2 separate regions of the Homo sapiens genome follow, and region 2 is linked to region 1. The links come from fine-mapping of genetic effects on gene expression. A gene starts in region 1. The other region holds a variant in brackets. All regions are shown on one strand. Distances are between the middles of the regions.

What was found.
Region 2: its variant is fine-mapped to the expression of MSL1 in whole blood (INTERVAL, PIP above 0.99).

Annotation. Positions count from the first base shown.
Region 1 is chr17:40,118,946-40,124,280 of GRCh38, forward strand. MSL1 (MSL complex subunit 1) reads left to right here and starts at 3,026. Exons shown (of 9, transcript NM_001365919.1): 1 at 3,026-4,435. The coding sequence starts at 3,668. It overlaps LOC124904001 (a long non-coding RNA gene), which reads right to left and starts at 2,895. Exons shown (of 2, transcript XR_007065752.1): 1 at 2,839-2,895; 2 at 1,584-2,468. RefSeq lists silencers at 2,477-2,636, 2,867-3,066, 3,107-3,316, 3,377-3,516, 3,617-3,666 and 1 more and an enhancer at 3,867-4,505.
Region 2 is chr17:40,165,805-40,171,172 of GRCh38, forward strand. It overlaps CASC3 (CASC3 exon junction complex subunit), which reads left to right. Exons shown (of 14, transcript NM_007359.5): 8 at 993-1,057; 9 at 1,694-1,808; 10 at 2,046-2,144; 11 at 2,399-2,613; 12 at 3,520-3,642; 13 at 3,794-3,858; 14 at 4,643-5,368. The coding sequence ends at 3,817. Among named protein-coding and RNA genes, the nearest start is that of MIR6866, 6.6 kb to the left of the region's middle. RefSeq lists an enhancer at 2,260-2,819. The variant A/G (reference allele first, on the strand shown) is at 2,731.

The DNA.
Region 1 (5,335 bases):
GACGGACTCTCACTCTGTCGCCAGGCTGGAGTGCAGTGGCGCGATCTCGGCTCACTGCAAGCTCTGCCTCCTGGGTTCACGCCATTCTCCTGCCTCAGCCTCCCGAGTAGCTGGGACTACAAGCGCCCGCCACCATGCTTGGCTAATTTTTTGTATTTTTAGTAGAGACGGGGTTTCGCCATGTTAGCCAGGATGGTCTCGATCTCCTGACCTTGTGATCCGCCCACCTCGGCCTCCCAGAGTGCTGGGGTAACAGGCACGAGCCACGACGTCCAGCCTTGGACATACATTTTGAAAGGCAATGGGGTGACAAAGAGAGGAAGACTGGGCTGGGCGCGGTGGCTTACGCCTGTAATCCCAGCTTTGGGTGGCTGAGGTGAGCGGATCATGAGGTCAGGAGTTTGAGACCAGCCTGACCAACATGGTGAAACCCCGTCTCTACTAAAAATACAAAAATTAGCTGGGCATGGTGGTGCATGCCTGTAATCCCAGCTACTCTGGAGGCTGAGGCAGGAGAATCGCTTGAACCCGGGAGGTGGAGAGGTTGCAGTGGGCTGAGATTGTGCCACTGCACTCCAGCCTGGGCAACAGAGCAAGACTCCGTCTCAAAAAAAAAAAAAAAAAAGAGTAAGACTGTAGAAGTGGTATTTGGGTGTTTGGGTGGGAGGAATTCGGGAGCTTGATTTTTAGATGTAAGTTTGAAATACCTAGGCCGGGCGCGGTGGTTCACACCTGTAATCCCAGCACTCTGGGAGGCCGAGGCGGGCAGATCACGAGGTCAGGAGATGAGACCATCCTGACTAACACAGTGAAACCACGTCTCTACTAAAAAATACAAAAAATTAGCCAGGCGTAGTGGCAGGCGCCTGTAGTCCCAGCTACTGGGGAGGCTGAGGCAGAATGGCGTGAACCCGGGAGGAGCTCGCAGTGAGCCGAGATCGTGCCACTGCACTCCAGCACTCCAGCCTGGGCAACAGAGCAAGACTCCACCTCAAAAAAAAGAAATACCTATTAGACATCCAACTGGGTATGTATACTAGACAGTTGGATATATGATTCTGGAGTTAGGGGATGAGTCCAGAAAGAAATATAAATTACGGAGCTGTCAGCGTAGAGATGGTGCAGAAAGTCTTGACGCTGAAGGCTGGGCACAGTGGCTCACTCCTATAATCCCAGCACTTTGGGACGCCCAGGTGGGAGGATCGCTTGAGCGAGTTCAATACCAGCCTGGGCAACAAAGGCTGGTATTACAAAGGCCCGTCTCTACAAAAAAATAAAAAGTTAGCCAGGTGTGGCAGCCCAAGCCTGTTGTCCCAGCTACTTAGGAGACTGAGGTGGGAGGATCACTTGAGCCCTGGAGGTTGAGGCTGCAGTGAACCATAATTGTGCCACTGTACTCTAGCCTTGGGGACACAGCAAGACCCCAGTGCCACAAACACACAAGCCTTGACATGGAAAGAGATCACCACATTCTATGTGCCCTCTCATCCCTGCTCACTCCATTACTTGGTGTCCCTAAGCTCAATACTTCCCTTGCTGATCTGAGGCCATACAGTCTGGTGAAAGAGGGCCGGACTCTTGGCTTCTTAACACATTCACATACGTTTGTTTAAAATTTCCAGTGTTTCATGCTTTCAGCCCACAAAGCACAGACACAGTTTTAATGAGAGGTTTTCACATCAGGCCAGAGAATGTCAGTCTTCTCCATCTCCATAGAGATTTTAAAAAGCACACCTCAGACAAAAAAGAAAAACAAGCAATTAAGACTATTTCAGGGCTGGGCACGGTGGCTCACACCTGTAATCCCACCACTTTGGGAGGCCGAGGCGGGCGGATCACCTGAAGTCGGGAGTTCCAGACCAGCCTGACCAAGGAGAAATCCTGTCTCTACTAAAAATACAAAATTAGCTGGGCGTGGTGGCGCGTGACTGTAATCCCAGCTACTCGGGAGGCTGAGGCAGGAGAATCGCTTGAACCCCGGAGGCGGAGGTTGCAGTGAGCTGAATTTCACCATTGCACTCCAGCCTGGGCGACAGAGTGAGAATCCGTCTCAAAAAAAAAAAACGTTTTTTTCACAAGGAATTCTGAGGACTTGTTGGCTCAATTGCTTGGACATAAAGACACACATACATGAAGCTGGAGAGATAGGAAGAAGCGCTCAACACAGAACACCCTAAGTATCCCTACTCCCTTTCAAGGACTAAATCCCTTCAGAGATTTCCTTTGCTTCAGTCCTTCAGGAGCCTCCCGAAGATGCTAGGAGTCGTTTAAGAAGGCTGGAAGATGGCCGTTGGGAAGGAACTGTTGGTAGCTGGCAATACTTCATCCCAAGGAGGCGGTGGCAATAGCTCCCTGGGCAGCAGACATCATGGATTTTCCTCCCTCTGGGAACCAGAGGTCCCTCCGTTTCTGGTTTGAATCCCTTAGAGACAAAGAACTTCATTCTCTCCCATACCCGCGTGGGACTGCTGGGGAGGAGAGGGGGTGGAGGGGTTAGACTTCTACCCCCATGAAACACCCGCGGGCTCAAAGAGGAGCCTGGATCCTGACTGGTCCAGGAGGCGTGCGGGGCCGCGGGGCCCCTCCGGCTTGGGCCAGGCGCGTTGCCAAGATGCCCGGGGAAGGGGCCGCCCGGCGCAGGCCGGGGACGTGGAGCGCTCGGGGCGCTCCCACGTAGGCCACACATTGGCCGCCTGTATCCTCCTTCTTTCCTCTCAACTCCATTCTCTCGCGCTTTTTTCCCGGGGAGCCTCCGCTTTCCCCTTCTTCCCGCGGCCGCCCTCGCCCTTCTTCCCCCTCCAGACCCTCCCCCGGCTCGCCCCTCCCTCGGCAGCCCACCTTCACCCCGCTCCTCCGCGCGCTCCTCGGTCCTCGCCCCTCAGCCCCGGCCTCCCCTCGCCGGCCCCCGGCCCCCGCGGTCCCCTCCCTGCCCCCCTCGAGGCGGCGGCGGCCCCTTTCACAATAGCGCGGCCCGCCTCCCTCCTCTCGGCTCCCGGTGCACTCCCGCCCGCTCCCCTCCCCGCGCATGCGTCCTCCGGTTGGCGGCGGCTGCGGCGGTGGCGGCTACGAGCGGCTCCGTTTTTTTAAAGGGAAACGCTGAGGCGCCGGGGGTGACTGTGGGGGAGGGGGACCCCGAGCCGCGGAGACCCCCGGGAGAGGCGACAGACCCCCTCTCCCGGAGTAGGAGGGCTTTGGGCGGACCCAGCCCTCCACCCCCTCCTGAGGAGGAGGGGGGGGAAATGGAGGCTCGGGGCGGTTGAGGCGAGCTCCGGGGCGGGGGGCCGGGGCGGGGAAGGGGGGGTGCGGGGTGGGGAGACGAGGCGGGCCCGGCCGGGCCAGGGGGGGCCGAAGCGAGCTCCGGGGATGAGCTCGGGGGCGGCTGGGTGCGAGCTCCTGCCTCTGAGGCGAAGGCGGCGGCGGCGGCAGCAGAGGCGGCGGCGAGGCCCCCATGGGCCGGCGGCGGGCCTCAGCCGCGGCCTCCACGTCTCCGCACGCCGGCGGGATGGCGCCCGGGCCCCGGAGGAGCCGCGCTAGCGGAGGCCTGCTGCCGCGCTGCTGAGGCGAGCCCGCCAAACTCCCCTCCCCCCCCTCAGTCCTCGACCCCCCGCACCTCGCCCCTTCCCCACCCCCTCCTCCGCCTCGGTGCCCGGCGCTGCTCCGGACCACTATGACCATGAGATCCGCGGTGTTCAAGGCGGCCGCGGCCCCTGCCGGCGGCAATCCTGAGCAGCGACTGGACTACGAGCGGGCTGCGGCGCTGGGCGGGCCCGAGGACGAGCCTGGGGCGGCCGAAGCCCACTTCCTCCCCCGGCACCGTAAGCTCAAGGAGCCGGGGCCCCCGCTGGCCTCCTCCCAGGGCGGGAGCCCCGCGCCTTCCCCGGCCGGCTGCGGCGGCAAGGGCCGGGGCTTGTTACTCCCGGCCGGGGCGGCCCCCGGGCAGCAGGAAGAGAGCTGGGGCGGTTCGGTGCCCTTGCCCTGTCCGCCCCCGGCCACCAAGCAAGCCGGCATTGGGGGGGAGCCTGCCGCAGCCGGAGCCGGCTGCAGCCCCCGGCCCAAGTATCAGGCGGTGCTGCCCATTCAGACGGGCTCTCTCGTGGCGGCGGCCAAAGAGCCTACGCCCTGGGCTGGGGACAAGGGTGGGGCGGCCTCCCCCGCTGCCACCGCCTCGGACCCGGCGGGACCCCCACCACTACCTCTGCCCGGGCCGCCACCCCTCGCGCCCACCGCCACCGCCGGGACCCTGGCGGCCAGCGAGGGCAGATGGAAGAGTATGAGGAAGAGCCCTCTCGGGGGTGGTGGCGGCTCGGGAGCCTCCAGTCAGGCCGCCTGCCTCAAACAGATCCTTCTGCTGCAATTGGACCTCATCGAACAGCAGCAGCAGCAGCTGCAGGCCAAGGAAAAGGAGATCGAGGAGCTGAAGTCAGAGAGAGACACGGTACGGGAGGGGTTAATCTGCATTCGGGCCGAGGAGCGAGTTGTGCGCATGCTCGGGGGAAGGGGGCTGTAGGAGGTTAAGGCACCCCCGGGTTAGGGGTAAAGGAGGTTGGCCACCGGCAAAGGAGTATCTTAGGCGCTGGGTCTCTGGGAGCCAGGCTCACAGACACGTTGGGTTGGAGGGAAGGGTTAAAGGGCAACCTCTCAGGGGGAGGGGGAGGGGTTTCAGGTGCCAAAGGGTTAATTTAAAATGACAGCCCCAGACGTGTGGGAAAGACGTTTAGTGGAAAAAGACGTGATCTGTGAGGGGTTAAAAATGAAAGGGTGGGGTGTAGGTGTTGTGTCCTTATGGAAGGGTTAAATTAAAGAGCTATTGCGTTAGAAATGCACGGTGGAGGAGAGGGCTGTAGCAAGCAGCTGTTGCTTTCACCACTGCTGCAGCATCTTTAGATAGGAGGGCAGTAGGCCTTTTAGTGGGCACAGGGGTAGAGGTGATTTACGTGGAATCCTATTTTAGTTTTCTTAAATGATATTAAGAGAATCACTGCCTTTGATTTCAGACAGCTTTTAATAGGAACCTGAGTTCTAATACATGACCCACTGACCAGGTCCCTTTTATAAGCATGGTGTTTGAAACTGGAAGATTTTAGGGCATCAGGGGAAAGTAAGCTTATTAAATGTATTAAATAGACCTCCCCATCCTTATTTTAGAATCTTAGGGAGTAGGAAAGTCGTTTATTATTTCTTTACTTCTGAGGAGCTTGGACGACACAGGCTTGTTTTTACTGCAGCAGTAGTTAAGGGCATCTCTGCGTTAAAACATATTCCTTCAGATATGAGGGAAGCTGGGGTGGGGGGTATTACTGTGCTAGCATACCTTACAGCTGCCTAAAAATAAACA
Region 2 (5,368 bases), 47 kb after region 1:
CTAGAGTCTGGAGTGCAGTAGCGTGACCTTGGCTCACTGCAACCTCCGCCTCCAGGGCTCAAGCAATCCTCCCATCTCAGCCTCCTCAGTAGCTAAGATCATAAGCACACATCATTACACCTGGCTGATTTTTTTTATTTTTTGAAAAGACGGGGGGTCTCACTGTGTTTTCCAGGCTGGTCTTGAACTCCTGGGCTCAAGCAGTCTTACCTCTGCCACCCAGAGTGCTGGGCTTATAAGCATGAGCCACTGCATCCAGCCGGAATTGAACTTTTAATTAATTGAAACTTAAGTGTCCACATTTGGTTAGTGGATATCATATTGGGCAGCATAGTTTTAGAGAGTAAGACCTACCTATTACCCATTTTGCCTATTGTGGTTTGTTTTTCTCCAGCCAGATAGATCAAAGGATCTTCCCTTAGTCTGAAATCTAACTTAAATATTGGAACTCCTCAATTGGAGTTGCAGCACCCTTCTTACTATTGGAGGACAATCTCTAGAACATTCCTTTTTGTCTTGAGTCATTTTAGCCAGAGGAGAATCTCCTTTCAAACTTCCAACCCAGACCCCTGTGAATGGATATAATCAAGTAGATTTACAAAGCATCCCTCCCTTGTCCAGCTGTTGCTCAGAAACTCTTGGGCTGAGATTTTTCAATATGTTGGATAATGTAATGTGCTAATTATAATCTCTCAGGGATTCTATGCAGGGAACAATTTGATAGGAAAAAATTTGAATTTGATTTTCTTCACTGAAGTCATTTTATTTTTCATTTTCAAGGGCTTTATTGCTATATTAAGATGGCAGACAGTGGGGACAAATTTCTAAATGCTGGTGTTGACAGAAAGCAGAGATAGTTTATAGAGAATTTTATTAGTTAAAAGAAAAAAGGCATTCCTTATGTTGACACTTAAACCTGTCTCTTGATAGTATCTTTGAGTCCCACTCACGTATGTCTGATCTGCAGAAGTGACTTTTTTGGTGTATTACAGGTATGCCCAACCATATACACATGGGAGCAGGACCTCCACCTCAGTTTAACCGGATGGAAGAAATGGTACAGAAGGGGAAAGGGGTAGATGGGGGAGGGAGCTGCCTGTTACACAGCTTGTTCATTGTTTAAACCAAGATAAGGTCTTTTTTTTTTTTCTTTTCTTTCTTTCTTTTTTTTTGAGACAGAGTCTCGCTCTGTTGCCCAGGCTAGAGTGCAGTGACGGGATCACGGCTCACTGCAAGCTCTGCCTCCTGGGTCCCAGTTCAAGCAATTCTGCCTCAGCCTCCCGAGTAGCTGGCATTACAGGCACGTGCCATCATGCCCAGCTAATTTTTGTATTTTTAGTAAAGACAGGGTTTCACCATGTTGGCCAGGCTGGTCCTGACTCCTGACCTCATGATCCACCCACCCTGGCCTCCCAAAGTATTGGGATTACAGGCATGAGCCACCACGCCCGGCCAAGATAAAGTCAGTTTTTCCATTGATTATGCATGTTTCTTTTAATTTGGATCTCCTAAATGTAAGGTAGAAGGTTTAGGTTCAAATCTTGATATCTTTTCATTATTTTTCAGCTCACTTTGCAAATATCCATTAAATACCTGCCATGTACCAAGTGTTTTTCAACACCTAAAGGAAGGTAGGACTTGATATGAGAGCCCTCTAGAATTCTTATTGTTTAGGCCTCTTTCTTTGTCTCAGGGTGTCCAGGGTGGTCGAGCCAAACGCTATTCATCCCAGCGGCAAAGACCTGTGCCAGAGCCCCCCGCCCCTCCAGTGCATATCAGTATCATGGAGGGACATTACTATGATCCACGTGAGTTTTTTCTTACTGTTGGGGTACTTTTCTTGGCAGGGTGAAGTGAAGTAAGATACCAGGCTCCTGGCTCCTGAATTTCTCTTCTGACCTCTTATAGTGGTTATCAAACATTGTCTGGTTGCTGTTTTCTTCGCATGGAATATTGAGAACATCTTTTAAAGGGCTTGGGGAACAAGGAGACTTGTCCATGTGAAGAGTAAGGGTTTATGAGAGTCCCAATGTGATATCTTACAGTGCAGTTCCAGGGACCAATCTATACCCATGGTGACAGCCCTGCCCCGCTGCCTCCACAGGGCATGCTTGTGCAGCCAGGAATGAACCTTCCCCACCCAGGTAAGCTTTGTGTCTCTGCTTATATGCTTCCAGTACCTGAGGATATATGTTGGGAGTGCCACAAAACCCATCCTCCTGAGCTTTGTGCTGCTAGCCTGGGAGTCTGGCCATCCTGGCTGCTTGGGCAACAAGTTCCTCTTGTGTCCATCCTGAGGACTTCCATTCTGAGCCTGATTATACTGAGCAGTCCAGCCGGGCCATCCTGTGAAAATGATGTTACTTTATTTTTCAGTTTTTTTCTTCTCCTTATCCAGGTTTACATCCCCACCAGACACCAGCTCCTCTGCCCAATCCAGGCCTCTATCCCCCACCAGTGTCCATGTCTCCAGGACAGCCACCACCTCAGCAGTTGCTTGCTCCTACTTACTTTTCTGCTCCAGGCGTCATGAACTTTGGTAATCCCAGTTACCCTTATGCTCCAGGGGCACTGCCTCCCCCACCACCGCCTCATCTGTATCCTAATACACAGGTGAGATGGCTAATGATCATGTTTTTCTAGATACACATTCTTTAATTCAGACAGGAATGTGGTATGGGGAGAATGCTAAAGGAATTTGAGAGAACATTTTCAGTGCCACTGATTTGT[A/G]TGTGACACCAAGACGCCTCTTAGTGGTCAGGAGCTGGAAATGCAGCTTATGTAATGCCCATCATCTTTATTCTTTTCAGTTTTTTTCTCCGTTGCCCAGGCTTGGAGTGCAGTGGCGTGATCTCGGTTCACTGTAACCTCCACCTCTTGGGTTCAAGCGATTCTTCTGCCTCAGCCTCCCGAGTAGCTGGGATTACAGTGCCTGCCACCATGCCCGGCTAGTTTTTGTATTTCTAGTAGAGATGGCGTTTCACCATGTTGGCCAAGCTGGTCTCAAACTCCTGACCTCAACCGATCCACCTGCCTCGGCCTCCGAAAGTGCTGGGATTACAGGCATAAGCCACCGCACCCAGCGTTCAGTTTCTTTAATGGTGTTTCTTTCCTGTGTTGTGGTACATCATAGGTGGCAATACCTGGTTTTTACTCTATTGCATAAAGAAGCTGTATTCTACTCCTTATCACCCCTACCTCTGTCCTGCTTAACTTCCACCACGTTGACATAATCAAGTATCTGTAGTGTCGCTACTGAACTCAGCCTTTTCCATTTGTCAGCTGATGGTAGGAATTAGAGAAAGCTGGGCAGTACTTTGAAGAAATAAAAACCAGAGCATAATAATGAAGAATTAAGGCAAAAATGAATAGTCACTTTATTTTGAAGGGTGGGCAGATTAGATATTTTTAAAATTATAAATTCCCCAATTCTCTTATGGCTGAATAATATTTCCTGTTCATCATAGGTTGGATGAATTCATTCCTAACTTTTTCTTCTCCTGGCTTGTGGGGTCCCAGGCCCCATCACAGGTATATGGAGGAGTGACCTACTATAACCCCGCCCAGCAGCAGGTGCAGCCAAAGCCCTCCCCACCCCGGAGGACTCCCCAGCCAGTCACCATCAAGCCCCCTCCACCTGAGGTATGAGAGTTCCTTCCTATACTTAATGCACATGCTCCGTCAGTGGGCTTTCCTTCTCCCCAGAGGATTTCCCTCATTTTCTGGGTGTGTTTCTCTGGAAAACAGTCTTTTTGTTATGACCTGATAACAAATTCCAACTTTGTTATTTCAGGTTGTAAGCAGGGGTTCCAGTTAATACAAGTTTCTGAATATTTTAAATCTTAACATCATATAAAAGTAAGTGCACAACTTACTGTGAATATTGTTAAAACTAATGCTCACACTTGCTTAATAAACAAAAATCACTTAATTAATGCTTTTTTTTTTTTTTTTTTTTTTTTTTTTTTTGAGACGGCGTCTCAGTCTGTTATCCAGGCTGGAGTGCAGTGGTGCAATCTCGGCTCACTGCAACCTCCATCTCCTGAGTTCAAGCGATTCTCTTGCCTCAGCCTCCTAAGTAGCTAGGATTACAGGCACGCACCACCACACCTGGCTAATTTTTGTATTTTTAGTGGGAATGGGGTTTCACCATATTGGCCAGGCTGGTCTTGAACTCCTGACCTCAGGTGATCCACCTGCCTTGGCCTCCCAAAGTGTTGGGATTACAGGTGTGAGCCACCCCACCCAGCCTCTGATTAATGCTTTAAGTTATAATAATCATGGGATATCTCAGGAGGCTTAAAGGAGTCCTGAAATTTGCCAGTTTGTTTGTTTGGCAAGTGTATTGGGCAGGGTTGAAGTAGAAACGATTGTTAACATGACAGTTTTCAATTGGGAAGCTACAAGGAAAAAATACAGGAAGGCAGTCAAGGAAAAGGGAAATCTAAATTTGAGATGTTATAGCAGAAAAAACCAGTTCTAAAGATCATAGAGGAGAAGGACTGGGGGTTTTGTTGCTTTTGTTTAAGGACATTACTTAAAACACATTATTTAGAAGTGTGGCTTTTTGAAAACAGCTTGTGAATGCCCAGAAGGCCCACTAACACTTTGGTGGTTCTTCCCTTTTTCCAACCCCTGTCAGAGCAGCAGAGGTGAGAACTCAGAAGAGAAATACAGCTGGCTATCTACTACCAGAAGGGCTTCAAAGATATAGGGTGTGGCTCCTACCAGCAAACAGCTGAAAGAGGAGGACCCCTGCCTTCCTCTGAGGACAGGCTCTAGAGAGAGGGAGAAACAAGTGGACCTCGTCCCATCTTCACTCTTCACTTGAGTTGGCTGTGTTCGGGGGAGCAGAGAGAGCCAGACAGCCCCAAGCTTCTGAGTCTAGATACAGAAGCCCATGTCTTCTGCTGTTCTTCACTTCTGGGAAATTGAAGTGTCTTCTGTTCCCAAGGAAGCTCCTTCCTGTTTGTTTTGTTTTCTAAGATGTTCATTTTTAAAGCCTGGCTTCTTATCCTTAATATTATTTTAATTTTTTCTCTTTGTTTCTGTTTCTTGCTCTCTCTCCCTGCCTTTAAATGAAACAAGTCTAGTCTTCTGGTTTTCTAGCCCCTCTGGATTCCCTTTTGACTCTTCCGTGCATCCCAGATAATGGAGAATGTATCAGCCAGCCTTCCCCACCAAGTCTAAAAAGACCTGGCCTTTCACTTTTAGTTGGCATTTGTTATCCTCTTGTATACTTGTATTCCCTTAACTCTAACCCTGTGGAAGCATGGCTGTCTGCACAGAGGGTCCCATTGTGCAGAAAAGCTCAGAGTAGGTGGGTAGGAGCCCTTCTCTTTGACTTAGGTTTTTAGGAGTCTGAGCA